Linked DNA regions of Homo sapiens. The protein of the gene in region 4 purifies or fractionates together with the protein of the main gene of each other region. This does not show direct contact. Each region holds a gene or a part of one and is shown on either strand. Other genes may lie near its edges. The genes, in order: PRRC2C, PRRC2B, SMARCA1, DDX60, PDCD4, SRSF9 and EIF5B.

Region 1 (5,276 bases), on a different chromosome or scaffold from region 4:
ATCTGGAGGAAAATAAGGACTAGAAATGTAACTGGCAATGCTGGGAGCAATGGTAGGCACTTCTAGTCCCAGCTACCTGGGAGGCTGAGGCAGGAGATTCTCTTGAGCCCAGGAGTTGGAGGCCAGCCAGGGCAACAGAGTTAGGTCTGTCTCTTAAATAGAAAATTTACTAAAGTTACCCTCTCTATAGAACGCTTTTATCCACAAAGGTGTTCTGGCTCATGCATCGATGAGATTAGCGAGGAATTTAAAATGTTATTACTCATAAAACTAACACAGTAACTCTCAGACTTGTAAGCAACAATTAACATAGACTGAGATAAGCTTTCATTGTGTTGTCCTATTCATAAGGTGACAAAATCACGATTTACCGAAATGAAAGTGTGTCATAACTCAGACACAATTTTTGTATGTCCTTCACTGTAAGAATACAATTCTGTACTAACTTATGTAACATTTTACCAATGATCAATTCTTGTCATTTACAAATATGACATAAATAGCATCCAAAACACAAGTTACCTAACTAACAAACTGAAGTAGTGTTTAGGGGTGGCACTTGGAGGCAGACAGGGATATAATATAATCTTCAAAGACATTTTATCACTAAAGAGGGTGGGGTGGGGGTAAGAAGAAGAGAGGGGGCTGGAATGAGCCAGAACTTCTGCATTTTCAGCTATGAACAAGATACTCATCCCAGGGATATTTACTGTAGAGCATAAAGAAATCGCTAAGAAGCAAAATCCTGCATATAAGTAGACATATCAGGGATAAGGGGAGGTGAAATTTTCTTATGTACCTAAAGAAATATATACATCACCCTGAGAATTTACAGATTATTTATTGCTTGGAAGAGAGTATTTTCTTCTACCAATATCCTACCATTCTCCCTCCACTATTAGTTGACCTTTTACTATGCACTAAGCATAGTAATAAGCCCTTTACATACATTATCCATTATCTTTTTTTACTCCTATAAAAGCCTCTGAGGGAAGTCCTATTATCATCACCATTTTACAGATGAGGGAATATTCTACCAATAATATAGATCAGACGCCTAAATTTAAAAATTATATCTACGACATGGTAGAGTTAGTTTTAAGTTATCTCTAAGCACTCAAATAGAAAAGGACACAAAAAAATTAGCCTCTACCCCAAGTCCAAAGTGGATATATTCCATTTTTACAACTTTCAAAACTTTAACCTTAGCATGCAACAATATTCATATACTAGTCAAGCTAAAGAAAAACTACTAGTTAATAATGCTTTATCTTATTTAGTTACTGTAGTTTATAATTTAAAAAGCAGGTTGAAGGTTTAGAGCATCCCCTTTGGGTTCAGACAGTATGGAATTGAACCTACACAATACCACCAATAACTGCTATGTGACCTTGGTCAGACTACTCTCTCAGATTTCATTTCCTCATCTGTAAAATGGGGATGATCTTAATAGCACTTTTCTCAAAGGTCTGTTGTGGAGATTAAAAAAAAAATGTATGAAAAGGACTTATTACTGTGCTCAGTGTATAGCAAAAGGTCACCTAATGGAGAACAGCCACACATAAGCTAAGCAGAGCAAACACAATCACTTAAAAAGGCTATATTCTGAAAATCCACTTACAGAAAAGGAGAGAATTACTATTTGACTACATGCTAAAGACAAAATTCAAGTTCAATTTATTCCTAATTTTTTAGGGGATCAATGCATTTGGGGTGAGCCAGAAAAGATGCTGCAGTGCATCTGTGACACACACCTAAAAATGGCTCCAGTCAAAGCAGCATCTTAATTACCAATATGGGAGGTGAAATCTAGTTTTGAAAAATGGTGGGGTTAGGCTTGGTAGGTGCTTAGTATCACCCTATTATTTTTATTTGCAGGAGTAAGCTATTAAGTACTCAACAATCAAAAAATCCTCCGATTCTTCTGGTGCATTCCAAATGAAAATCTTACAGCAGAGCCGCCTACTGTACAATTCTAAGTACTCTAACGAGGTATGAATCTATGAACCCAGGCTGAAAACCAGCCAATGCGGAAATCCAGGTAGCTTTATAAGCCAGCAAACATCAGGCATGTCAGACCCTCAAAAGATCCCAAATAATGTCAAAACACACATACATCCCTTTAAATTAAAGGTACTCCTCTCATGCAAAGGAAGGAAGACTCTATCAATGTCTCTATAGTGGCCCCATGCCCTTTTCTTCAGTCCTAAAACGGGGCCTTTACCCTGACACCACCAATATCAACGCTATCTCAAAGACAGGGAGCTACCGAGATTCACCACGCAAGTTAGAGGATGGAGCGGCCTAGAGTGTGAAAAGACTACCCAAATCCTCCTCCGGAGTTGGGCAGCACTTCCCTAGCGGAAGTAGGGTTGGTCTTGATTCCCCGAAGAGCCTCTCATCTAACCAGGTCTTTAAACCAGACCCTCCCATACATTGCTCATTGCAAGTCCCACCCTCACTACACAGGAAGAGGTAGACAGTGAAAGCCCCGGCTGAGTCCTTCAGTTGTTTGGGGAAACGCATACCCGACACTAAAAAAAAAAAAAAAAAAAAAAGACTTCACGTCCGCCAGTCCAGGAAGACGGAAACCCCCTTCGCTTACCCGGCAACATGCGTAATCCCCTCGCAGGGCCAGGACTGGGGTCTAGGTGGGAGCAAGACAGACCGGTCCAGAACTCCCGCTGCAGACCACATGGGGCGGGTCTGACTCCGGTTTCCCGCTCCCCAAGCTGGAGGCCGACTTCCCCAGACACAGAGATGATGGTAACCAAACAGAAGGGAAATGCCCGGACCCAAGGCCCTCTCCACGCGGCCCCCTAGCCTCCGGGCGCCAGGGTCTGGGTGCGCTCCCACGCCCCAGGCCGCACTCTGGCCGTTCCCGATGGGGCCCTCTTTGATCGCGGCCCCCACACCCTCGCTTTCCTTACCGGTCAGGGTGAGTGTCAAGTTTGCGCACTTCGAGGGTCTCCGCCGATCTCTGATCGAAAGAAGGGGGAGGGAAAGCTGGGGTTAAAGGGGTGGCCGGAAGGGCCACCAGACTGGAAAAGCCGAAGCTGCGGATGGACAAACCGCCAAAGCACTTTCGCAGCTTTCCGAGGGGGAGCGAGCGAGCGAGAAAAAGAAGCAAGATGGCGGCTAGCCAGCCCCTACGTACTACGTCATGACGCTAAGTACGTAGGTCAAATCTCCGCAAGACCACACTCCTGCGCAGAGACGGCCGGATCACGTGAAGCCTCCGTGGCGGCCCAACCCCGACAGAGGGTGCTGGCGCTTCCTGCTGGACGGAGGGAGTTTCTGCAATCAGAATTATCTTTTCAGGACAAAGCTTGGACCTGAGACCTTTCTAAGAAGTCTTGAATTGACCACGTTTACAAGTTGATAATAAGCCTCAGTGAAATGAGCACTCTTATGTCTGGTGGGTGGATGTGTAAATGGTTGAACCAGCAGTTCGCCAGTATGTCTCAGTGAATTTGGGGCAAGCTGAGAAGTCTTGGTGTATTGAAAAGTTATCACAGAGAGTGAAAGTAAAACTAGTGTGAGGAACAGAGTAGCATGGGCTGCTGAGAGCACTTTTTAAGTTTCTAATTATGGATGTGAGATAAGCCATTCAGTTTATTTATATGATCTCTCCATCACAGTGTTCAGCTCCGTTGAATAGTAAGATTCACCCATGCTGGCTTTTACTAGGCAAGTGTAACATAGGCAGATGAGTGTATCTGGAAGTGGGAGACTACAATGATGATAATATTATGTCAGAACAGATGGCGAATGTTTAGTAAATGGTATCTTTTGTCCTCTTTGTGAACTACCTATGACATATTTAAAATTCAAGGATTTCTTACCACTTCTGGTCTGAACGATCTTCCCCGCCAGTAGCTGGTGTATGTCCATGGAATTGTCACTGTAGCAATGTTAGAATAAATGAAATAATAAAGAGAGGTAAATTATGAACACCTCCCTCCCCACTAATATTAATTTGAAGTAGAAAAGTCTGGACTTGCTTGGTGGCTCATGCCTGTAATACTAATACTTTGGTAGGTCAAGGCAAAAGGATTGCTTGAGACCAGGAGTTCAAGACCAATCTGGGCAACATAGTGAGACCCTACCTCTGCAAAAAAATTAAAAAGAAAAAAAGCTAGCTAGGCATAGTGGCACATGCTTATAGTCCTAGCTACCTGGGAGGCTGGAGGCAAAAGGATCACTTGAGCACAGGAGGTTGAGGCTGCAGCGAGACTCTTTCTCGAAAAAATAGAAAAGAAGAAAAGAAAAAGTTTTTTTATTGATATAGGGTCATTGCCAGGGGAAAGCCTACTGATCATCCACAAGAGGACAAGGAAGCATTACTTTAGTGAATTTCTACAACCTTCTAGGATCTGGTCTATAGTGTCCTGGTCACAGAAACATCTTTCTTTGTTTTTTTGGAGGCAGGGTCTCACTTTGCTGCCCAGGCTGGAGTGTAGTGGCATAATCACAGGTCACTGAAGCCTCAACCTCCCAGGCTCAAGCAATCCACCTGTCTCAGCCTCCCAGGTAGGTGGGACTACAGGTGCTTGCCACAAAACCTGGCTTTTTTTTTTTTTTTTTTTTTTTTTTGCCAGTAGAGACGAGGTCTTGCTATGTTGACTGGGCTGGTTTCGAACTCCTGAGCTCAAGCAAGCCTCCCGCATTGGCCTCCCAAAGTGCCGGAATTACCGGCATGAGCCACCACGCCCAGCCAAATCATCTGTCTTGAGCAATGGAGAACAACTTCAGCAATCAGATGAAATTACATTAACCAAGGTCATAAGACTGACACGTATGGCCGGGCGCGGTGGCTCACGCCTGTAATCCCAGCACTTTGGGAGGCCGAGGCGGGCGGATCACAAGGTCAGGAGATCGAGACCATCCTGGCTAACACGGTGAAACCCAGTCTCTACTAAAAAATACAAAAAAAAATTAGCCGGGCGTGGTGGCGGGCGCCTGTAGTCCCAGCTACTCAGGAGGCTGAAGCAGGAGAATGGCGTGAACCCAGGAGGCGGAGCTTGCAGTGAGCACAGATCCTGCCACTGCACTCCAGCCTGGGCAACAGAGCGAGAGAGCGAGACTCTGTCTCAAAAAAAAAAAAAAAAAAAAAAAGACATGTATTAAATTATTAATTTCTAAGAGCTTTAATTTATACACCTGAACACTCAACAACTGCAAAGCCAATACTTTTTTTTTCTTTTTTTCTTTTAATTTTTGCCAGAAACAGAAAGCCTCCGGTATGCCAGCATGGACCCAAGGTGCTATCTTTT
Region 2 (4,503 bases), on a different chromosome or scaffold from region 4:
TGCAGGGGCTCATTGGTTTCTCAGACCAGGGGTTGTGTCCAAGGGATGGCTTCAGAGAGCCCTTGGATATTAAAATAGCATGTGAAAGGATTTTTTTTTTTTTTAAAGATGGGGTCTCACTATGTTGCCCAGGCTGGACTTGAACCCCTGGGTTCAAGCAATCCTTCTGCCTCAGCCTCCTGAGTAGCTGGGATTGCAGATATGTGCCCCCACCCCCTGCTAGCATGTCAACTTTTGCATGCATATCTATTTTTCTGGGCTCCGGATCCATGGCCATTCAAAAAGTGGTCTGTGAGCTTAAAAATTTTTAGTAATACCCGCTGGGATCTTTCAAAGACTCTGTAGAAGCCACCAACTTTGGCCAGGAGTGGTGGCTCACACCTATAATCCCAGCAGTTTGGGAGGCCAAGGCTTGAAGATCACTTGAGATCAGGAGTTCAAGACCAGCAACAGAGTGAGACCCTGTCTCTATTGTTTAAAAAAAAAAGAAGGCCAGGCCTGGTGGCTCACGTCTGTAATCCCACCACTTTGGGAGGCTGAGGCAGGCAGATCACCAGGTCAGGAGATCGAGACCATCCTGGCTAACATGGTGAAACCCCGTCGCTCCTAAAAATACAACAACAACAAAAAATTAGCCGGGCGTGGTGGCGGGCACCTATAGTCCCAGCTATTCGGGAGGCTGAGGCAGGAGAATGGCGTGAACCCGGGAGGCAGAGCTTGGCAGTGAGTGGAGATCGCGCCACTGCACTCCAGCCTGGGCGACAGAGCAAGACTCCGTCTCCAAAAAAAAAAAAAAAAAAAAAGAAAGATATATTTTTTAATGTAAAAAAAGAGAAGCTACCAACTTTTAGAAATAGTATAAGTGAAAAGAAGCATGAGCATAGCGGAAATAACGACAGAGAATCCAGATTGGCAGGAGTGAGGGCTCTGCCCTGCTCACTCTCTCCTGTAATCCATGAGATGTTGAGAAACACGTTGGGTGAGGATGTGGAAAGTTGGGTAAGGCTGTCAGACCAGCTCTTCCACGTCAGAGCCGTTCACTGGGTGTCACGGGTAGGGGGCTGGGGTGGCGGGTGCAGGGGAGGCAGGGGAGTTGGATTTCTGCAAGCTGTGCCTGTGCTTGTTCTTTAAGAGCTCATAAACTCTCTAGACGGGTTGCTCTTTGATGCCCTGACTCTGTCTTCCTCCCCTGGCAGCTCTCCCTGTGCAGGCCCCAGCCAACGACTCCTGGAGGAAAGCTGTCACTGCCTTCAGCAGCACCGAGACTGGCTCTGCGGAGGTGAGTGTGGCCGCTGCCCACATGCTGCCCCTGGGATGAGTGTGTGAGTGTGTGCTCACCATCCACACGGCCAGCTTGCTGTGGCCCACCCAAGCCCCTGCCACAGCAGCTGAGCTTGGAATTAGGTTGTTTCCATGGGGCCAAGCTCATCAGTGGTTTTCCATCTTGATTTCTGGCCTGTGCATGGGGCGTGCATGAGCAGGAGAAAGAGAAAAGGGGTAACAAGGGAGGACCCAACGCTGGGTGGGAAGAGGGATTCAGGGCCTCCTCTGAACTGGTGTCAGCAGCCACGTAGTCTGGTTTGGGTCACAAGTGAGATGGGTTTGGCAGCCTCGGTCTGGGGCCCATAGAAGATCCTGTGGTCACGAGCTCTATCGGGGTTGGTGTGTTTGGCCACACGTAAGTTGTCAGGCATCCTCAGCAGGGCAGGATCAAGATCAGGACCAGACTTGGCAAGGGACAGGCAGCTGGGGTAGAAAAGTCTCTGTGCCACATGCAGTTTTACTCTCTGGATAATCGAGTTGGGAGTTTGAGGCTATAACCCATTTTGTGCTCTGCACAGCAGGGTTTTAAGAGCAGCCAGGGAGATAGTGGCGTTGACTTGAGTGCCGAGTCTCGGGAGTCGTCTGCGACCTCCTCGCAGCGCAGCTCCCCATATGGGACTCTGAAGCCAGAGGAGATGAGCGGGCCCGGCCTGGCGGAACCCAAGGCCGACAGCCACAAGGAGCAGGCTCCAAAGCCATCTGAGCAGAAGGTAACCTGGACGTTCCAGTCACAGTGGCCAGGGCCTGGGTGGAAGGGGCCATCGTCTCATCATCTTCCTCAATTCCTGGGACAGTAGAAGCTAGAGAGTGTGGTCATTCCAGTCTGTGTGTCTCCACCTCTCTGCTTTTTTATCAAGGATTCAGAACAAGGCTCTGGACAGAGCAAGGAGCACAGACCAGGACCCATCGGCAACGAGCGTTCTCTGAAAAACAGAAAGGGCTCGGAGGGGGCCGAGCGGCTGCAAGGGGCTGTCGTCCCGCCTGTTAACGGGGTGGAGATTCACGTGGACTCCGTGCTGCCTGTGCCACCCATTGAATTTGGAGTCAGTCCAAAAGTGAGGCTTTGATTTGTTTTCTTGCTTGCTTTTTTTACTTTTTATTTTGGTACTTGGAGAGGCTGGGGGCTCAGATGGGATTGTCTCCTAGAAGGAATAGAAGGATGGGAGCCAAGCAGTCTTCCAGCGGCTAGAGTGTTGGTGTGGAGTCCTGCACATGGCCAGTGCTCTGTTGAGTTGCTTTAAAGATTGCTTCACTGACACCAGACAGGCCAGTGATCTTCCCTGTTTCTGTCAGGCCACCCAAGGGACAGGGAGAAAGAAGTGAGGCTGGCGTCCTGTCTCCTGTGCCGTGGGGAAAATCTGGCCATCTCGCTCATATGTGGCTCCAGTGAATGCTGCTCAGTGGAGTTTTTGAGTCGGGGAAACTGCATCACGTTAATGTATGCCTCTGGGGAATGTAGGGCCAGGAGGATCTCAGTGGGCTGTGTGGCCTTTTTTATTTTTTCAGGACTCCGATTTCAGCTTGCCACCTGGTTCTGCCTCTGGTCCTACTGGGAGTCCAGTTGTTAAACTTCAGGATGCCTTGGCCAGTAATGTAAGTCCACACTTCCACTTTTGGCTCCACTCACTGCTTGGGGCTGGCAGGCCCTGGGTGAAGGAGACAGCACATGTATTTCAGGCTGACCTGGGCTGGCACGTGACTCAGTTGCTAGCAGCTCCATGTCCTTAAAAGGTGCTTAAATGTTCCTGCCCAGGTTTTGTGACCTTCCAGTGGGGATCATACAGTTCCTAAGGGCTGGTTTATTTGGCTCTCTTTGGTTCCATTGTCTCCTCTGTGCCAGGTGCGAGCCCAGACTCAGGCTGCCTTTTCTGTGGCCAGGGGTAAGGGGCACAGATTGAGTAGGAGAGCCCTCCTCAGGAGGCCCCATCTCACCATCCAAGGGTCCCTGCCGCCTGCAATCTAACTGTTGTGATCCAGAAGACCTGCTGGCGCTCTACCATGGGCTCAGGAGCTGGCAGTTGCATCTGTTGTGGCCACTCGGGGCTGCAGCTGAGGCTGTCGCAGTGACATCTGGTTCACTGCTCTGTCCTCACCACCTGCAGGGGTGGGTGCTAGTGCATATGCTGAATGAACGAGTATCATTTGGGCAGCGTTTCCCAGAGGATTCCAAGGAATGTGAGTGCTGTACAATATTCATAGGTGTTGAATGAAAACAATGTTTTGGAAGTGCTGGGCTCTACGAGGTTCTTTACTCGAGAGTCTGCGGTCTCTGTCACATGCAGATGGACACCGGGGATCTGCAGGAAGCGGGGGCACTGTTGCATTTCCAGCCTCTGTTACCAGAGCCCTCTTTTTCAGTTTGCTGAGGGGCACAGCCTTCCCTGTCTGGCCCAGGGCATCTCCAGGCCAGGTGGCAGGTGCCTTCTGAACCAGATGTTTGTGTGCGGGCTGCCAGTCCATATTTATACTGCCGGGACATGGCTCTCCCTGTCTGGAGGGCACTATGGAGTGTGGATATGGGGGTGGCTCTCTGCAGACTTGTGTGGAGGAAACTGATGGAGGCAGCCATCTCCAGGAGATCAGTCATGGTCCTGGCTGCCATCAGTTTCATCTGGGTGGTCTTGGGTACATGTGGCCAATACTGAAGATGCATTTGGACAATTCATAGACACGGAGCTGTAGGTGCTTTTGGGAAAAGCCATGGATGGGTTTGGGCAAGTCATAGATACATTTGGACGAGCCTTGAGTGTGTTCAGGAGAGCCATGGATGGGTTTGGGCAAAGCCATCTCTGCACCTGTTTGTGTTCCATGGTTTCCTTTTCCTCCTCTCCAGGCAGGGTTAACACAGAGTATCCCCATCCTGCGGCGGGACCATCACATCCAGAGGGCCATCGGTCTCTCCCCAATGTCCTTCCCCACCGCCGACCTTACTCTGAAGGTAACACCAGCCCTGAGCTGGGTGAGGGCCCACCCAGTACCTTAGCTTACAAAGAGGCAGAAGGGAGGAGTCCCCGAACCCCTAAAGCTTAGATTGGCTCTGTCCACTGCCAGCGTGATAGTAATTTTCATCCCTCCCCCTCCCCTTGCTTCTGAAGATGGAGTCTGCGCGCAAGGCTTGGGAAAACTCCCCCAGTTTGCCGGAGCAGAGCTCTCCAGGCGGCGCTGGCTCAGGCATCCAGC
Region 3 (3,246 bases), on a different chromosome or scaffold from region 4:
TGAAATATAAGTGGATGTGACATGTGTCACTTCTAGGCCGAGGCAGTAAAGAGCCTAAGTGCCACATGTTCCAGATGTTGCAGCCACAAAATAGCAGAGCCTTAGTCATCCTGGAACCTTGAGTTACCGTGTGGAGCAGATCCCTTCCCATTCCCACATCCCTCTGACCTGCATGAGATATGTAGTGTGAGCAAGAAAAAAAAACTCTTGGTGTGTAAAACCTCTGACACTTTGAGATTGTTACCTGAGCATAACTGTATTCCTGACAAACACAGCCCCCCTTCTTCTGCATACATAGTGCTTATTTCATACTCTAAACTTAATTGTTAATAATTCTACATGTTACACCCAGGCCCTTCTGAACTGGCTCTATGGGACAGAAGATCACACACAAGTCAGCAAGCAAAGCTTTAACTTTGAACCAAATACACAGTAGTAAGCAATACAATTCAGTAAACACAACTACTTTCTACTGCACAAAAAAACAGGAAATAATTAAATTTCTTATAGACATTTCTTTATTATATTTTCCCACTTGAATAGAGAATAATTTAAATGTAATGCATACTGACAGCAAGCACAGTATCAAATATTAGCTTTTTTAATATTTTTCTTTCCTCACCCTTTATTCCTTTAGGAAAAAAATATTTAGATGACCTCAAAGAAACAATTATTATGCTAATCACAGTATGCAGTAACACAAACAAGCCCAGACTCAATAGAAAAGAAAGCAACAAAGAAGTGAAAAAGTCTTTCTCCTCAAAACATTTTAATTCGTTTTTCCACAGCCATATAAATTTAAAGTATGAAACAACAATAATACAACTATAGAATCTAGGTTCTCTTTCAAAGCAGCGGCATATAAAACATAGAAAAGCTAAAACCTCAGCACAAGCTTCAAAAGAACAAGGACTGAGAGGATTTTGATGAAGACATGAAATGCACAAAATACAGTACACAAAAATACTAGAATGCCATAAAATATAAAGCTACACATTTCAGGTAGAAAGCATTGTAAAATATATAAAATATGCAAGAAATCAAAACCAAAGAGATTTTTCTTAGAGTACCATGAATACACTGGAACTGGCAATTAGCATTTGAAGATGGGAACAAGAAAATAGCAGTTTCCCATTTAAAACTTTATTTCTAGGCTTTAGGATTTCACCTTCTTGACATCCTTCTTTCCAGAGCTCTCAGTAGCTGACTCTGCTTTTCTTTTCTGTGACTAAAATGGAAACAGATTTAATGTTCTGCTCCAATATGCACATTTTAAATGGCCCAACAATGTTAAATCTAGGATGTAAATGCATTAAAAAAAAATTTTAACATGAATATTCACTTAAATGTTATATTCACAGTTAATGTTCTATATAGCCCAACAAACTATATAACCCAATGTAAAATAACCTTCAAAGATGTTTCTTTTTATGAAAAGACATAAAATACCCATCAAAAATAGTCATCAAGTATCTACTTACACATGGTATTATAAATGTACTCTTATCTTAAAGAACTACTTAATGTTTTCTGGGCAAAATTTTGTTTATGAGTATATATTTTTTAAAAAACTTATGATAGGTTTTAACATACCATATTTCATATCTTCTATGATACACATTTCTTTCACATTTTAGCATCTCTGAAATCAGGATGCAACTTACAACTGATGACAAATTACACCTGGCAGCATTTTCCCTCAGTGGTACATAAAATAATGCTGTGTCTTACAATGGAAGGCATCTTAGATTCGATGAAATATGGCAGTTTACTTAACCACACTCAAATAATACGATCTATTAAAGAATATTTTAAATTACAGCTGTACAAAGCAACCTGACTGGATTAAAATCAAGTTATCCTATCAATTCAACAGTTCACTTATTACCAAGCAAAGCTTTGTTGTCTGCTCAGAGTTCCCATTTGTACTCATAATTCCACAAACATCAGAAAACTTACTTGATCAAATCAGAACTCCTAGTTTCAACTTCAGCCCCATCCCATCCCACCCCTACCCCTCTGCTACCCCCATGATAGCTCTAGTCTCAATTCAAAAGATTTCACTTGCATTATACTTCTGTTTAGATTCATGAGGAATTTTTTAAAATACTGAGCCTAGTTACTAGGGAGTTCCTAACCATATGTTCTACAAACAAATAAGAAACATGGTTGTGAAGCAATTCTTCTTCTGTCCAAAACAAATTAGCATTTCATAAAACCAGCTTTTATTAATAGCTATCACTATGGCATTAAACATAATATAGGCATTTTAATTATGTAAAAAAATGGGATCTACCTAAAAGTTAGGAAAATGCTGAAAATTTTACCATTGGAGTTTTAGTTGCCCGTTTCTTCTTTTCTGCTCTCTCTCTTTCCTCAATTTCCATATTTTCTTTCTCAATCAATGAAATCAGAGTGTTACAGCGTCTCTGGAATTCCTAAATGAAGTAATAAAGATTTTTAATTTCTGCAACCCAATCATTATCTTTAAAACGCTGACAACTATTTAACTGTATGATTTCTGTGGTATAGAATTTCCAAAACTGCTATTTTTCAGGACAATATTCACACAGGGTATTAATAGATTCCACCAGAATTAGGAGTGGGGGTAAATGTCATTTATGGATGACTGGTTAAACAAACCATGATACATCCATATCATATAATATTACTCAGCAATAAAAAGGAAAGAACTATTAATACAGTTAACAATCTGAATGAACCTCAAGGGAATTATGCTAAGTAAAAAAAAAAAGCTAATTTCGAAAGGTTACATACCATATTATTCCATTTATATAACATCCTTAAATGACAAAATTATAGAAAGAGAGAACAGATCAATGGTTGCCGGGAGCTAGGGAGAGGAGAGAGGGTAGGTGTGACTGTAAAGAGATAGCACAATGGAGTCTTATGGTGGTGGAGGTTACACAACTCTACACATGACAAAACTGCATTGAACTGCACACACACACACACACACACACACGAGCGCATGTATAACTGATGAAATCTGAACAAGCTCTATAGATTACACGAATGTCAATTTCCTGGTTGTGATATTTTACTATAGTTTTGCAAAATGTTACTATTGGGGAAAACTGGGTGAAGGGTGCATGAGACCTCCCTGTACATTTTCTTTACAACTTTTTGTGAATTTTCTTATTTCAAAATAAAAAGTTAACATAAATCACATAAACAAAAAAAAATAAGGGGATGTTCTATGGTCAAAATAAGTTTTGGAAGTAC
Region 4 (4,503 bases):
CCTCAAGGATCTAGAACCAGAAATACTATTCGACCCAGCAATCCCATTACTGGGTATATACCCAAAGGATTATAAATCATTCTACTGTAAAGACACATGCACATGTATGTTGATTGCAGCACTATTTACAATAGCAAAGACTTGGAACCAACCCAAATACCCATTAATGATAGGCTGGATAAAGAAAATGTGGCACATATACCCCATGGAACACTATGCAGCCATAAAAAAGAATGAGTTCGTGTCCTTTGCAGGGACATGAATAAAGCTGGAAGCCATCATTCTCAGCAAACTAACACAGGAACAGAAAACCAAACACCACATGTTCTCACTCATAAGTGGGAGTGGAACAATGAGAGCACATGGACACAGGGAGGGGAACCTCACACACTGGGGCTTGTCGGAGGGTTGGGGGCAAAGGGAGGGAGAGCATTAGGTCAAATACCTAATGCATGAGGTGCTTAAAACCTGGATGACGGGTTGATAGGTGCAGCAAACCACCATGGCACATGTATATCTATGTAACAAACCTGCATGTTCTGCACATGTATTTCAGAACTTAAAATAAAAAAAGGATATATGGTTGGTGAAATTTATGACTTCTTAGAAGTCTAATTACATCTTTTTGCCTCCTCCATGAATTGAATCACTATTTAGATGCAGAATTCTAAGTTCAAATTATTTTCCCTTTAGAAATCTGAAAGTGCTTTATTTTATCAAAACATCCAGGAATGTTGCTTATTTTAATTAATTCTGTGTGCCAGGTATTATTTTAATCAATTCGTATCCATCAGTTCATACATTTAAGTAGCTTGAAAACACAATCAGAGGTGAGTAATATTATTGTTCCAATTTTATAGATAAGTAAATTGAAACTCAGAGATGGTAAATACCTTGTCTAAGCTTATAGAACTATAGTATATTTCAGAACCAAGATTAAAATGCAAGTAGTCGGCCAACAGTGTTCATTTCTTAAACCAGTTCTCATATGGCCTGACTTCCATTTCTTTGTACCTTTTCTGTCTTTCTCTTTATTCTTGGAGCTCTGCAATTTTAACAAGTTGTGCCTAGGCGTAGTTTTCTCTTTTGTCATTATTTCTACTCAGTAGTTAGAGAAACATTTCAATCTAAACACATTATGTTGTTCTTTAGTTCTAGTCTAATATTAGTATATTAGTTTAAGTATATATCTTTGATTATTTTTATCCCCACTCATTTTGGAATCTTAGTTATCTCCTACTAGAAATATTAGTAGGGGGAGAAAGAGCTTATTGACTTATTCCTGGATATTTTAGTATTTTTAGAATTTTTTCATCTCTTTGTCTTTTACTTTTATCCTTTACAAAATTTCCTGGACTTTAACCCTACAGATCACTGACTAAAAATTCCAGCATGCTCATTTTATTGTTCTGCAATGACTTTCTTCCTTGTAAAATTATGTTTTAAATGTGTACGAATACTTGCATGCTTTCTTTTTCTCTTTCTCTCTCTCTAGCAGCCTGTTACTATTTTATGAGAAATATTTTTAATTCTTTGAAAGCAGTAATTAGAAAATTTTGAAGGTCTTTTCTGTCTCTGCATCATGCTTATTCATCTGGTTTCTTATTTTTGCTTTTTTTGTGTGCCTCAAATGTCTATTGGTACTAATTTGTGTGTGTGTGTGTGTGTGTGAGTGTTCAATCATTAGTTACTACAGGTGGCTGGATCTCTAGCATGTCTCTCCCTTAAATGACAGAGAAGTGGGGATAATGACTGTGAATTCTGTTTAGGTGTTAGGGCGTGCATGTGTTGGGGCAGAGGTTAATAGGGTAGCTCTAGTATAGGGTATATAAGAGGAAAGCCTAGGGTGTGTAAGCCTACTTTAGTATAGGGCATGTAAGAGGAAAGCCTATTAGGCTTTACACGCATTGTCTTGCATACCCTGTCCTATGTCATGCAGAGCAACCTGTAGGATCTCAAACTTCCCATAGGCAGGCTACGGAATCCCTTGATTGTCAAATTAAGGAGGGATTGCCCATTAACGCAGTTTTATTTTGTCACCATAGCTATTGCTGAAAGTTTCACAGTGTTTAACGGGCACTCACGTCTCAGTCATAGTTATATTTCATTATAAAAACTATATTATTCCTTTTAATCTATGTATATTATTTCTTAAAACAATTTCTAAGTTGTCAGGACATAAATAGTTATTAATTTGTTTGTATCTAACTACTTAATAAATGAAACGGTTAGCTATTGATTTTGTCCTAGGAGTGGCATAAAAAAATTCCTGAGACTCTAAGAGCATCGTGAACATCTGGGAACCTGTAAATTAACTTATTTCATCTTGTAGAATCTGATGCTATCCTTTCTGAAGTTTTCTGTAATATACTTGGGGTTAATTCTCTCTTGCCTGTTCAGTTCTCACTGACCCATTTTTTTCCATTTGAGCTTGGTACAATTTGGAGAGTTGAAGAAAGATAGTATGGCCAATGCACAGTTAGTGAGGTGGAGGATTGCATGAAATGGGTGACAGAGAGTTTTTTGAAAATACCTAATCTCCTGACCTGGGCACAAGACCCATTATAGTCTGGTTCTAACCTACCTTTCCAATGTCATCTCCAATGAGTCACCCTGTCCTATGCCATGTAGAACAACCCATAGGATCTCAAACTTGTCATGTAGTTTCACAACTTTATGCATTAAACTGATGCTGATTTTGCTACCTGAAAAGTAATTCTCTATATCTCTCACTTTCCCCAACATGCTTTCATAAGTCTTCATCATCTTTTCAACCTGTTCTTGAAACCTCAGAACACAGGACCCTGATCCCTTCATTCTGATTTAGGAACTCCCTCTCAATTCTCTAATGGCTTCCTGTGCCATTTCTGCTAGAACACAGCAAATTAGATGTAGTGTGTCACTTAGTTATCTTTCAACTTACACTGGGTTGTACAAGGAGAGAATCATGCTTCATGCATATTTGCATATGTTTCAGCAAGTACAATGTTTTGTAAAGTGTAGATACTCTATAATCTTTGAAATAAGATAGTAACTGAGTGAGTGAGAGACCATACTTACGCTCGTGTCTCCATTAAGGGTCCCTAAACTCCCCAGCCCACAGTAATTCCATTTTTCTTTAAACTTATTTGTCATTACAGTCATATACTTCCTTGCATTATTATTGTAATATTTAATATCAGCATGTGCATCACCATTATATGTTCCTTACTATCATGGAATAGGAATCTCTCTCTCTCTATCATATCTATCTATCTATCTATCTGTGTATCCATCATCTATATCTATCTATATCAATCAATCTATCTACTATCTATCCATAAATCATGTGTGTATCTACCTATCTGTTTCATAGCCCTAACATATTGAATGGCAAGTGTCTCAATATTTAGTGTCCATGACAAAATGCTCAAGTGCATTTTCATCTACCTCTTTAGTATTTTCTTCTCTATTACCTTTGTGGATTCTTCCTCCTCTCTTGATATATTAAGTATTAGTATCTTCAAATGTGGGTTTTTAGTACTCTTCTCCCATGATGCTGTCTCTCCCTGTCCAAGCAAGCTCATCTACACCAATGGCCTCATTTACCGTTAATACTCAGATGACTTACCTCTTCAAATCTAGTCCAGACTTTGTATTTGTCCTCTAGACTTGTATATTTTACTACTTACATATCATGGCTTATGGGGAATCTTGAAAGCAAGTCAAATTCAGGTGGTTCACAAATGCCGCCATAATCTTTTCCTGACACGTAGCCTTGTTCTAAAATTCCCAGCCCAGGGAATGGCCTAGTCATCCATCCTGTTACTTGAGCTAGAAACTTGTGTCATCCTTGACAACCCCCTTTCCTCTCTTGTCCATCCACATCCAGTCCAGTTCCAAATTATGTCAAGCTCATCTCCTAAATGTCCTTCAAGTGAGTCCACATCTCTCCAGCTTTATTATCTCAGCTACCATCAAACTATATTACATCAAATTATCATCATTACTCTCCTGCACAGTAACTTTCTTTCTGCTCTACTAAGAAGCTTACTCCCATCCTGTTTATTCTCTATATTGTAGCTGGACTAATCTTTTCAAAGTGCAAAGCCAATCACAATACCACCTGCTTAAAATCCATCAGTGGCTAACTTTTCATTCTAGGACGAAAAGAAAATTCTATAACATGACTTCAAAGGCTCTGCATGTCCTTCTATTTCTCTTGTCCTCTCTAGTCTTTTCTTTGATGGTCTCCACTCCAGCCCTACTGGCTTCTTTCTGGAATCAATGTCACCCACAACCCTTCACGCCACTGAGCTTTTACACATGGTATTCTGGTATTTCCTCTGCCAGAAATGCTACTTTTTCTCTTTTTGCCTAATTAATTATTGTTTATTTCTTAGAACTCAGCTCAAGCATTATTTCTTTAGGGAAACTTCCTCTGACCTCTTGACTTTGTCGTTTTTGCAATGTTCCATTGTTTCTATGATTATCTGATTAATAATTATCTTTAAGCTCTGTGAG
Region 5 (4,503 bases), on a different chromosome or scaffold from region 4:
AAATATTAATAGCTCCAAGGAAAATCACCCACACACATACACTTTCCAGTGAGAACATCCTCCACACACCCCCCAACACACACACTTTCTAGTGAGAACATCCAATTAGCCCTAATTCTCCAACCTGTAAAGAAGTCAAGGAAGCCACATCCAGTACAGGTAAGAGCCTAGATCTTTGAAGCCAGAAAAGTCCTGAATTCATACTTGGCTTCTACCATGTACTAGCCATGTGACCTTAGAAAAAGTACATTATACCTCCCTAAGCCTCAATTTTCTCATCTTATCACTGATAATACCTACTCTAAACACTGAAACTACTTACAACAAAGGACCTGCTCCACAAGATTAGTTTCTTTCAAATAAACTAGGACTTCATGAGGCAGTCCTGTACAGATTTACAAGGGGGCTAAAACAAGCTTCGCCCTTCTTTCTCCATGAACTCACAAGAGTCACGTTCTTCAGTGACTTCAGGGAACGATAAACTAACTTAGCAGTTAACCTTCCCAAAGATCTCATCCACTATTTTACATTGAGAAAGTAGTATTTAAATAAAGTACCTTGAAGGACAAAGATCTCTGAGTTGTTTGGAAATTATTCCAGCCTGAAAACATTCTTCTACAAACCGCTCCAGCACAGAGTATGAATGTGGGACATCCAGATTAATGTCCGGAATTTCATTGTAAATTCTCTCATAACCCTACAACAATGAAATTACATGCAGAATTGTTAGCCCATATAAAATAAATGTCATAAAACACAATCCATCACTATGTCATCAATTTGTATTTAAGGCCAAATATTCAAATGGTTAAACTGAAGTCAGATTTGAATCGTGAGAAGCACAGAAAGTAGATTTGTTACAGTGTTTTACAACTGTTCTCTTTTATTAGAGTCAGGAAATAACAGACATTGGCAAGGTTGAGGAGAAAAGGGAAGGTTTATACGCTGTTGGTGGGAATGCAAATTAGTTCAGCCCCTGTAGAAAGTGGTTCGGAGATTTCTCAAAGAACTCAACATAGAATTACCGTTCAACCCGACAATCCCATTACTGGGTGTATACCCAAAGGAAAATAAATCATTCTACCAAAATGACACCTGCATTTGTATATTTATCGGGTACTATTCACAACAGCAAAGACATGGCATCAATCCAAGTGCCCATCAATGGTGGATTAGACAAAGAAAATGTGGTACATATACGCCCATGGAATGCTACATAGCCATAAAAAAGAACAAAATCATGTCCTTTGCAGCAACGTGGATGCAGCTGGAGGCCATTATCCTAAGAAAATTATCACAAACATAAAACCAAATAATGCATGGTCTCACTTGTAAGTGAGAGCTAAACATTGGGTACACACAGACATGAAGATGGGAACAATAAACATTGGGAATTTCAAAAGTGGGGAGGTAGGAAAGAGGACAAGAGTTGAAAAATTACCTATCAGGTACTATATTTACTACCTGAGGGACAGGATCATTAATTAGAAGCCCAAACCTCAGCATCACACAAAACACCCATCTAACAAACCTGTACATATACCCCTCTGATATCTAAAATTAAAAATATAAATAAAAAAATAAGTAAAACTGGTTACATAGCTAAAAAATTTTTTTTAAATACTGTTCTCTTAAAAGAGCTGTAAGCAGACATCAGACATTGGGCAAACTCCTTTCCCATCTACTTCTCTATTTACACTTACTACCTTTTTAAAAAAATACAAGGCAAACAAAAACCTCACAAACATTTAAAACAATAATCATAAAATTTTTAATAGGAAAAAAGTACTTTATAATTTGTTAAAAGTTAAAGGTTCATGTTTCTCTCTAGATATAAAATAGAAATTGTCACATCTTAGAAACCGAACCCTTGAGGTAGAATACATAATTACATTTGTTAAAGTAGGTAAAAAAAAAAAAAAAAACACTGCAGTGTTACTTTCCAAAAAATGGTTGCAAAAGGTTCAAACCTCAAACATTACCATTAAGAAAAAACAAAACATATAGGCATATTAACACTAAACATACCTAAAGAAAATTTCACTGACAATTCATAATCTGTATTCAATCATATATTTAAGACATAATCCTACAAGTTGTTCAAAAACAATGTTATACTTACTCTTTTCATTTGGTCTACAGTAATGGTAGAAGACTTCCAAAGGGACTTTAATAAATCCAAAATCATCTTAAATGTACTTTCTCCAGTTGACTCTAAAACCATTATAATAGCCTAAAAATTGAATCAATGAGTGAATTTTTGGTTAATTCATATATGAAACTGCTCCTAAAATGCACCTAGATGCCTTCTGTAATCGTAGAAATTTAATAACCACTTCCTCCTTTGATATTAAAAAAAGGATGTACATTATTTAAAAAGCATAAGTCGCTACAGTACAAAAAGGAACACTTAATAATTATCTTTGACATGGCAAGGTAATCTTACTTCATATACAAGCTCATGGTGAAAATGAGGTACTTCCAGTTCCTTAAGGCAATGTTCAGCTTCAGATATGTCTCCAGAGAGTAAATATTCTTTCAGCAGCATATCAATCTATTAGATTTAAAAGTTGAGATGTGTCAGAATTCCTAACTTTTAAAATATCGTGCTTGCCTACAGGATTATTTGCCCTCATTCCAATATAATGAAATAGTGGGTAACAAACAGCTAATAACATATACATTGGATGTGGTACTATTACAACAGAATTTTTCATAATTAAAAAATAAATCCCCAATTTTTAAATGGTTCATAATTATGATTCAAATGCAATGCTTCAGTGTGTCTGAATCACTGAGAACTACGAATAGGTTTATAATGCATGCGTCCTGGGTTGTGACCATAATGCTCTAGTGTGCCACTAAAAATAAGGGATTTTAAATACCACTAGAGGGCACTAACAAAGTTTCAACATAAAGTGGCACAAAATATTTCACTTCTATCAAGACGCTCTTAATAGTGCACTGAGAGCCAAAAAATGAGAGATGATAATGGGGCATTACTAGAGAGGGCAAAGATTTCCACATAGTTTCTCTTTTCTCTACAACTGAGAATTTGAAACTCATTATCTAAAATGTTCAATAATTCAGTTTCCAGCTGTAGCTAAAGAGACAAGTCTTGATTTTCCCGCTCAAACTTGAACATCTCAAAAAAGTGGGAGAACTTTTTCAGCACAAGAGTTTCAACTAGGAATATTTTTCCCTATATGTTATTTGTTAAAATCCCCTTTGTATTTGGTGGGCACATATCTAGTTGCCTGAATGTTGAATGTTGGCTGACTGAATTTAAAAAATCATATTTAAGTATCCTTCCAACTTCTATAAGATATTTTCATAAAAGGTAAAGTAAAATTTAATTGCTGTCATGCTTTAGGATATAATATTTACATGTAAGTAAATATGTATTTAAATATTTACATGTAAGTAAATATTTAAAGCATAGCATTTGAGTATTTTTACAATTACAAACTAATGCATAGTCATGCATCGTTTAACAGGGATACATTCTGAAAAGTGTGTTAGATGACTCTGTCATGGTGCAAACATCATAGAGTATACTCACAAAAACCTAGATGGTATAGCCTACTACACACCAGTGCTATATGGTATAGCCTATTGCTCCTAGGCTACAAATCTGTACAGCAGGTCACTATATTGAATAATATAGGCAATTGGAACACAATGGTATTTGTGTATCTAAACATAGAAAAGGTACAATAAAAAACAGTGTAAATGATTTTTAAAATGATACACCTGTATAGAGCACTCAATATGAATAGAGCTTTCAGGATGGAAGTTACTCTGGGTGATTCAATGAGTGAGTGGTTAGTGAATGTAAAGGCCTAAGACATTACCCATACACTGGCTATGCACTTTATAAACACTGTATACTTAGGCTACATTAAATTTATGAAAAAATAAAGTAACTGTGCTACAACATTACAACTGCCTCCATATCACTCAACGATAGGAATTTTTCAGCTCCGTTATAACCTTATGGGACCACCACCATCCCACACAGTCCATCACTGACCAAAACATCATAATGTGGCACGTGACTGTACTTGTTATTCAAATTATATTACTTACTTTTAACATTTGTTACATAACTTTAGAAGTATTAAAAATATCCCCCATCAAATTCCATGCACTTCTGAGAATGATAAATTACAAATACATTTATACATTTCTAAAAGTCTTCTTTGATCCAACCCTTCCATGTAAGCAAATATCCAAATAATGTCAACCTCAAACTCATATACTGGCAGTTTTATTTCCATTTTTATCTTGTCAATTTTCTTTATTGAGAGAGAATTCACACACCATAAAACAGCTTGTCCAGTTTCCAAAAATATTAATTTTGGAGAGTATTACCATCTTAACAATATTAAGTATCCTCATCCATAACCATGGGATATCATTCTATTTATTTAGGTCTTCCTTAATTTCTTTCAACCTGTTTTGCAGTTTTCAGTGTACAAGACTTGCATTTGTCTTGTTAAA
Region 6 (3,791 bases), on a different chromosome or scaffold from region 4:
GTTACAAATACCATGACCAAACTGTGTAATGTGATACTAATATGCAGAATAAAGCATATTAAAAAACAAACGTACCATGAATGCATACTTCTTTCAGCTATGACCCTGAAGGACTTAGGCATAGCAAATTCCATGGCTTTGTCCACCTAAGATAGATCTCTTATGGTACTGTGAGGTTACCAAATGGCATGGCCTCTTGCTACCTCTGCTAGGTCAGGTTCAAGTGGAGTGATTTGAGTACAAGCTCCTCAACAGAAGGCAAGGACCCACCTCATGAGAGCGGAATTTGGTGTCATCCAGTTTACGCAGGGCATATTCCATGTCTTCTTTTCTGAGATACTCGACCATCCCCACTCCATCCTTCTGCACATCAGCATAACAGACATCCCCAGCTTCTCGCATGTGATCCTTCAGGTCCTGCCAGCTGCCTGACGGAGGAAGTCCTAGGCATGGAGAACATAAGAAAGCCCACATCCTTCAGCTATGTTAACTGCCCTGTTAAGAGCCAGCAATACCTATGGTCCTTTCTCCATGATCACTTAAATCCTGAGGGTCCCCAAATCATAAACCTTGATAAGGGACATGAAATCAGAAAAGAGCACTGAAGTATGTGTGGTAAATGAACCACCTTGAGAAGCTGGTTTTAAGTTCATCTTCCAGAGACCAGGCCTTTTCAACAGAGCAAGAAGTCCATCCCATTACAGGTTTAGTATCTTTGAGAATTCATAGCCTCTTTCTTTGTCCTTTAAAATCAATGCCAAACTCCTAATACTTTGAGTTCCAATTTTTTCCATTATGAAATTTAACAGTACCAATTATTTATTGCTTGACAGGGTTTCACAGGACATGGGAATTTTGAAACCAGACATGAAATAACCAAAGAGTAGCTGAAGGTAACAACACAACAACAAAAAATCTAAAGTTTGTTTTCTTGTAGGTATGAATGACAAACTATACAGAGTACCTCTTAAAAGATCACCAACATTCTTCAATACAGTGGGGGGGAAGGTAAGACTCAGATGCTAAAACTAGTCGGGAGTCATACAACCCTACCTGATGTCATGAAAGGGAAATGTGCTCCTGCTCTCAAAGGCTGTGTTTACCGCTCACAGCTCAGGACTGCAGCCATTTCCTAATAGTTTTCTAAGCAGGATTTCAGAGCAGCATGGAGAGAAAAAAAGATAATGTATGACATCCTGAAGGAGGGAATAGAGTTCTGGGGTTAAAAAATTACAAAGGGACACAAGATAGGCAGATACTGAGAGTATCACTCTTAAGCACATGGGAGTATGCTGTGATTGTGTGACATTCACATCTTAAAAAGGTGCCAGGCTCCTCGATTTATTTCATTCCACCAGGGCCCTAAAACTCCCATGCAATATGCAGAAGGCCCCAGGTCTTTCCAGTGTGTTAATATTTTGAAGATAGATAAACCTCCCAGTTTAGCATTTCATCACTTATAAACACTAGACAGAAATAGTCTATACTTTCCAATAAAATCTCTAAGACTCTTAAGTTACGGGGTTTTAAAAAATATTTAATTCTAAAACCACCACAAAATCTGATCTTCTTCAGGATCCAAGGCTGGGTAAGTTGTTCAAATCTGGCTCCTTGAATGCCTTTCTACCATGTCTGATGCCAAGTATATTCCAAAAGAAGCATCTTTAGAATTGTAGCTCAAGTTTTCCCATCATCTTTCCTTCTCACCACTAGAAAACTCCTTTACAAGAAATATGGTTATGTTCTTCCAAGGCTGCACTCCCAGCGCAATTTCATTTGCAGGATACTTTCCTCATTGGCAATCCAGGGCAAGGCTTCACACAGGCTATTGAAAAGAAAGCCCCCGTGTCCCATGCACTGAAGAATAACAGCTATCATTTCTTGGAAGACAGACTCTGTGTTAAGTATTTTACATGTATCATCTCATTCTGTTTGAAAGGAACATACCTGAAACAAGAACTCGGAAATCAGATCTTCTTGTAGGAGGCCCATTCCTCCCACCACGGGGCCACCCACCCCGACCTCCATAAGTCCTGGGGAACTCCACACGAAGCCGACACTGGCCATAATCATAACCATTTCTTCCATAAATAGCATCCTCTGCATCTCTAAAAAAAACAACAACAACAAAAAAAACGTTTGGAGTTAGTGCTGTTCAGGAGGCCAAGTGACTTTCCAAGTGAGGGGCATGAGTAGTAAGCATAAAAGGGAAACCTAGAGTGAAGAAAAAAACACACAAATCAGGATCCTGAAGCACTTCTGCTTTGGTTTGGAGACGTTTCATGATACTGGAATTAACCTTTACAGCTGTCACACGCAGTTTTAGAGGTATGAAATTATAATGAATGAGCAAACAGATTACTCATAAGAGGGCTAATTCAGAGAAAAAAAAGAATCAACTGCTGACAGATTATTGATTTTGCCAATAAACCATCAGTGTTTTTCTAATCTTCGTGAGCATTTTCTCGAAAAGCACACCACACACTAACCCCTTAATATTTTTCTACAAAGCCTAGTGCCATAAAGTCTATGGAAATAAAAAGTAGGCGGTTAGCCAGGCATGGTGTTGCACGCCTGTAGTCCCAGCTACTTGAGAGGCTGAGATGGGAGTGCAGAGCCAAGATCACACTACTGTACTCCAGCCTGGGTGACAGAGACCCTGTCCCAAAAAACAGGAAAAAAAAAGTAGCCAGTTAGATAGGAGAGTATTTGAGGGTAAATAAAGTAGCTGGGCATGATGTTTGAGCCCAGGTCAGGCCAGCCTGGGTAATATAGTGAGACCCGGTCTTTTAAAAAAATAAATAAATAAGGCTCAAAGGACAAAAGAAAAATGCAAATGAGTGTTTTGTGATGAATGTGGAACTTTTTTTTTTTTTGAAACGGGGTCTTGCTCTGTCACCAAGGCTGAGTGCAGTGGCTGGAGCATAACTCACAGCAGCTTCTAACTCTTGGGCGCAAGCAATCCTCCCACCTCAGCCTCCTGAATAGCTAGGGCCACAGGCGTGTACCACTGCACCCAGCTAATTTTTGGATTTTTTGTAGAGACAGGTCTCCCTCTGCTGGCCAGCCTGGTCTTGAACTCCTGGGCTCAGGCGATCCTTCCCCTCAGTCTCCCAAAGTGCTAGGATTACAGGCATAAGCCACTGCGCCTGGCCTTGGAACTCTAAGTGTACCTTTTCAGCATGGTTTGGAGAACTATTTTTGTCAAAAAACATTCTTTGGATACAATTTTGCCAAAAGAGATAAATATTCAATAAAATTACTTTAAGTCTTTCCTAGGACTCTAGGAGAGTCAGGAATGCCACGTTGATTCTCCAGTATTGGATGGTAGAAAGTGTGACCTTGGAGCTTGGGTGGACAAGAGGAGCTGAATGTGCTAATGAAGGCATTGTTCAGTGTCACAGGCACATAATCACTTGTAAGATTTTAGAACTAAAAGCAACAATGACCATATCCAGTGCAACCTTGACTACGTAAAATGCAGACTGGGAGAGGCAGAACTGCTAGGAGGTCAGAACAACTCTGAATAAAAACTGGCCAGCATTCAGGCCAGGCGCTGTGGCACATGCCTGTAATCCCAGCACTTTGGGAGGTGGATCACTTGAGGTTAGCAGCTTGAGACCAGTCTGGGCAACCTGGTGAAACCCCTCGTCTCTACTAAAAAGATAAAAATTAGCTGGGCATGGCATCGCGCAGCTGTAATCCCAGCTACTCAGGAGGCTGAGGCACGAGAATCTCTTGAACCCAGGAGGCGAAGGTTGCAGTGAGCTGAGACTGTGCCGCTACACTCC
Region 7 (3,722 bases), on a different chromosome or scaffold from region 4:
CTCTAGTTCTTACTTCAGCTATCCAGCCATGGCGCCTGTGATTGGCATGAATTCTTCTGCATGCATTTTAATTTGTTCTTATTTTATAGTTTGTTGACATCGGAATAGTAACAAGTATTGAAATAAACCATAAACAAGTGGATGTTGCAAAAAAAGGACAAGAAGTTTGTGTAAAAATAGAACCTATCCCTGGTGAGTCACCCAAAATGTTTGGAAGACATTTTGAAGCTACAGATATTCTTGTTAGTAAGGTAAGTATTTCAGCAAAAGTGGCACACTTTAAGCAACAGGGAATCACTCTTCTTGGGTCACCTGTACCTGTAGCTCCTTGGGCTTCAGTTTGATTGTAGAATCTGATGGGACTGGATCCCCCATTAGGGCTTGACCTCTAGCTGGGCCTTGTCTGTTGAGGAAGTTGCTCTATCAGGAAAGCAGCACCAACAGAGAAAGCTAGGACTTTTAGGTCCCCTCGTGCCTGACATGCAAACCAGATGTGATTTTGGAATTCTACTCCCTTAGGCAGGCAAGCCCTGTTTTTTATTTCTGCTTAAGCTTTTTAGTACAGTGAGAGCGGGCATCTGGGGCCACAGCTTTCTTTGGCACGTTTGTTATGTTCTGTTTACCCTGTTTGTGCCTCGGGCATTGCAGATCAGCCGGCAGTCCATTGATGCACTCAAAGACTGGTTCAGAGATGAAATGCAGAAGAGTGACTGGCAGCTTATTGTGGAGCTGAAGAAAGTATTTGAAATCATCTAATTTTTTCACATGGAGCAGGAACTGGAGTAAATGCAATACTGTGTTGTAATATCCCAACAAAAATCAGACAAAAAATGGAACAGACGTATTTGGACACTGATGGACTTAAGTATGGAAGGAAGAAAAATAGGTGTATAAAATGTTTTCCATGAGAAACCAAGAAACTTACACTGGTTTGACAGTGGTCAGTTACATGTCCCCACAGTTCCAATGTGCCTGTTCACTCACCTCTCCCTTCCCCAACCCTTCTCTACTTGGCTGCTGTTTTAAAGTTTGCCCTTCCCCAAATTTGGATTTTTATTACAGATCTAAAGCTCTTTCGATTTTATACTGATTAAATCAGTACTGCAGTATTTGATTAACCAAGCTTCTGCAGATTTTGTGATTCTTGGGACTTTTTTGACGTAAGAAATACTTCTTTATTTATGCATATTCTTCCCACAGTGATTTTTCCAGCATTCTTCTGCCATATGCCTTTAGGGCTTTTATAAAATAGAAAATTAGGCATTCTGATATTTCTTTAGCTGCTTTGTGTGAAACCATGGTGTAAAAGCACAGCTGGCTGCTTTTTACTGCTTGTGTAGTCACGAGTCCATTGTAATCATCACAATTCTAAACCAAACTACCAATAAAGAAAACAGACATCCACCAGTAAGCAAGCTCTGTTAGGCTTCCATGTTAGTGTAGCTTCTCTCCCACAAGTTGTCCTCCTAGGACAAGAATTATCTTACAAACTAAACTATCATCACACTACCTTGTATGCCAGCACCTGGTAACAGTAGAGATTTTTATACATTAATCTTGATCTGTTTTAATCTTGATCTGTTTTAGTAGAGATTTTTATACATTAATCTTGATCTGTTTTAATCTTGATCTGTTTTGTCCTAGAAAATTCCATCATACACACATTTCCTGATATTTGGGCTTAGTGCTTCTAAATTGTTGCAGACACAAAACTTAATGATTCATTCGTAGTAGTAATCTGTAGCTAGTTTTAGGGTTTTGCTGAAGTCAGTGTGGGGTGTTTGTTTGAGGAAAAAGTTCCAAATATCCACTAGCATAGAATTTTAAACTATTTTTATTTTAAAGTTATGGCATAACATATAACATAAAAATATTTTATATACGTTTGAAAAATCTATACCGTTCTTTTTTATCATCAAAGTTTCTCAATGGCCAGTAGAAGCAAAAAGACAACACCACCTCTGATCTACGGGACATAATGTTCCCAGGAAAAAAATCTTCAAGTGGGTGTGAGGGTGTTTCTAATTCAAAATATGTAGATTTCTCCGCATGGAAGAAGTAGTAAAGATTTTCTTAACATGCTCCTGTGTTCATGCTTGGAGACAAGAATAAGATGGTTTAGAAGCTTTACCCTTTCTTGGAACAAGTAGAATCCCGGTCTGAGACCTCTCAGGAATTTCAGAGCTTAGCAGTCTGGCCTGGAGGTTTTTCAGCCTTTTAGTATAATAAACAGTAGTTGCTTCCTAGAGTTGAGTTTTTAAGGATTCACAAAAAGGAGCCTGTACAAAATATACATACAGTTCTTTATTAAACAACTGTAAACACTTCACTGTAAAAATCCATAAAACTTTATAAACAAACATTTTGTAAATAGAATCTATGCTACAGTAAAATAATTAACACAATTATTTACATGCAATACTGACAAATTTGGCACTTTTTGAAAAGAAATGTACAAAACACTTGCTTTAAAAGAAATTTAAAATTATAAAAACTCCGAGCATTACTATCATGCACTTTGCAAATACCTCACAAGCACTTATGGCACAGCTATCAGAGAGCATCAGGCTCTCTGGTAATATTTATGTAACTTTTAATGTGCTTCCATAAGTTTGTTGTAAAACCACCTGGACATTGTCAAGAATAAAGTCAAATGCCATATTCCAAACCGATTCCACCGATTGCTGCATCAGCCTAAAGGTGGGGAGAGAAGAAATGTCATTAGGAATTAGGAAAGGTCCTTAAGACTAATTATTCCTTTTTATATATAAAAATTGACTTTGGCAAAAAAAAAAAAAAGTCCTGGCCAGGTGCGGTGTGGCTCATGCCTGTAATCCCAGCACTTTGGGAGGCCGAGGAGGGCGGATCACCTGAGGTCAGGAGTTTGAGACCAGCCTGGCCAACATGGTAAAACCCCGTCTCTACAAAAAATAGAAAAATTAGGTGGGCATGGTGGCACATGCCTATAATCCCAGCTACCCGGGAGGCTGAGGCAGGAGAGTCACTGGAACCCAGGAGGCAGAGGCTGCAGTAAGCCAAGATCCTGCCACTGCACTCCAGCCTGGGCGACAGAGTGAGACTCCATCTCAAAAAAAATAAAATCCTAGAACACTCAAATTTTTTTTTATTTTGTTTTGAGACAAGCTGTCGATCAGGCTGGAGCCATGCAGTGGTGCAATCATGGTTCACCGCAGCCTCCACCTCCCAAGTAACTGGGACCACAGGTGGGCACCACCACCCCCCCAGATTATTTATTTTTTGTATTTTTCAGTAGAGATGGGGTTATGCCATTTTGGCCAGGCTGGTCTCAAACGATCCACCCACCCCAGCCTCCCGAAGTGAAGTACAGGCGTGAGCCACTGTGCCCAGCCCACTTCCTATGGTTTTTTAATCACATGTAAGACCTTGAGGGCAACATATTTGGAACCTTATTTGCTACTTAGTCAACATGGCAAAATAAAGGATATCACTTTCTCATTAACCCTAATGAGTACAGTTTCCCAGAAAGTTTAAAACAACTCAGTACACCCTCAGCCATTGTGACATGCCATTTTTTCCCATTTGATAAAAGTGATGAATTACTACCTTTTCATGTATTTTATAACTAGATCCAGTTTTTCCAAATCTTTTTCTTCTATTAGATCAGTACAGTATTTCACAACTTGGAGAATGTCTTCTTCCATTGGATCTAGGAAGGGGGAAAAACTTCAAATGAGGACCAG

The links.
Region 1: the proteins of DDX60 (region 4) and PRRC2C purify together in Homo sapiens (affinity purification with mass spectrometry; one large-scale study listed by BioGRID and IntAct). This does not show direct contact.
Region 2: the proteins of DDX60 (region 4) and PRRC2B purify together in Homo sapiens (affinity purification with mass spectrometry; one large-scale study listed by BioGRID and IntAct). This does not show direct contact.
Region 3: the proteins of DDX60 (region 4) and SMARCA1 purify together in Homo sapiens (pull-down; one large-scale study listed by IntAct). This does not show direct contact.
Region 5: the proteins of DDX60 (region 4) and PDCD4 purify together in Homo sapiens (affinity purification with mass spectrometry; one large-scale study listed by BioGRID and IntAct). This does not show direct contact.
Region 6: the proteins of DDX60 (region 4) and SRSF9 purify together in Homo sapiens (affinity purification with mass spectrometry, with the first as the bait; one large-scale study listed by BioGRID). This does not show direct contact.
Region 7: the proteins of DDX60 (region 4) and EIF5B purify together in Homo sapiens (affinity purification with mass spectrometry; one large-scale study listed by BioGRID and IntAct). This does not show direct contact.

The regions. Positions count from the first base shown.
Region 1 is NC_000001.11:171,483,390-171,488,665, reverse strand, and holds the start of PRRC2C (protein PRRC2C), read right to left. Parts: upstream 3,137-5,276; 5' UTR 2,931-3,136; intron 1-2,930. UniProt on the Homo sapiens protein: Required for efficient formation of stress granules.
Region 2 is NC_000009.12:131,480,530-131,485,032, forward strand, and holds part of PRRC2B (protein PRRC2B), read left to right. Parts: intron 1-1,196; coding exon 1,197-1,279; intron 1,280-1,841; coding exon 1,842-2,033; intron 2,034-2,180; coding exon 2,181-2,378; intron 2,379-2,829; coding exon 2,830-2,916; intron 2,917-4,156; coding exon 4,157-4,261; intron 4,262-4,418; coding exon 4,419-4,503.
Region 3 is NC_000023.11:129,446,006-129,449,251, forward strand, and holds the end of SMARCA1 (SWI/SNF-related matrix-associated actin-dependent regulator of chromatin subfamily A member 1), read right to left. Parts: intron 2,439-3,246; coding exon 2,328-2,438; coding exon of another isoform or gene 2,304-2,327; exon of another isoform or gene 2,297-2,303; intron 1,297-2,296; coding exon of another isoform or gene 1,291-1,296; exon of another isoform or gene 1,229-1,290; coding exon 1,157-1,228; 3' UTR 501-1,156; downstream 1-500.
Region 4 is NC_000004.12:168,311,490-168,315,992, reverse strand, and holds part of DDX60 (probable ATP-dependent RNA helicase DDX60), read left to right. Parts: intron 1-4,503.
Region 5 is NC_000010.11:110,892,142-110,896,644, reverse strand, and holds part of PDCD4 (programmed cell death protein 4), read right to left. Parts: intron 2,555-4,503; coding exon 2,447-2,554; intron 2,234-2,446; coding exon 2,123-2,233; intron 698-2,122; coding exon 558-697; intron 1-557. UniProt on the Homo sapiens protein: Inhibits translation initiation and cap-dependent translation. May excert its function by hindering the interaction between EIF4A1 and EIF4G. Inhibits the helicase activity of EIF4A. Modulates the activation of JUN kinase.
Region 6 is NC_000012.12:120,463,680-120,467,470, forward strand, and holds part of SRSF9 (serine/arginine-rich splicing factor 9), read right to left. Parts: intron 2,109-3,791; coding exon 1,948-2,108; intron 444-1,947; coding exon 271-443; intron 71-270; exon of another isoform or gene 1-70. UniProt on the Homo sapiens protein: Plays a role in constitutive splicing and can modulate the selection of alternative splice sites. Represses the splicing of MAPT/Tau exon 10.
Region 7 is NC_000002.12:99,398,659-99,402,380, forward strand, and holds the end of EIF5B (eukaryotic translation initiation factor 5B), read left to right. Parts: intron 1-89; coding exon 90-251; intron 252-648; coding exon 649-756; 3' UTR 757-2,582; downstream 2,583-3,722. Other genes in the region: DNA repair protein REV1, read right to left, coding at 2,583-2,694, 3,586-3,688. UniProt on the Homo sapiens protein: Plays a role in translation initiation.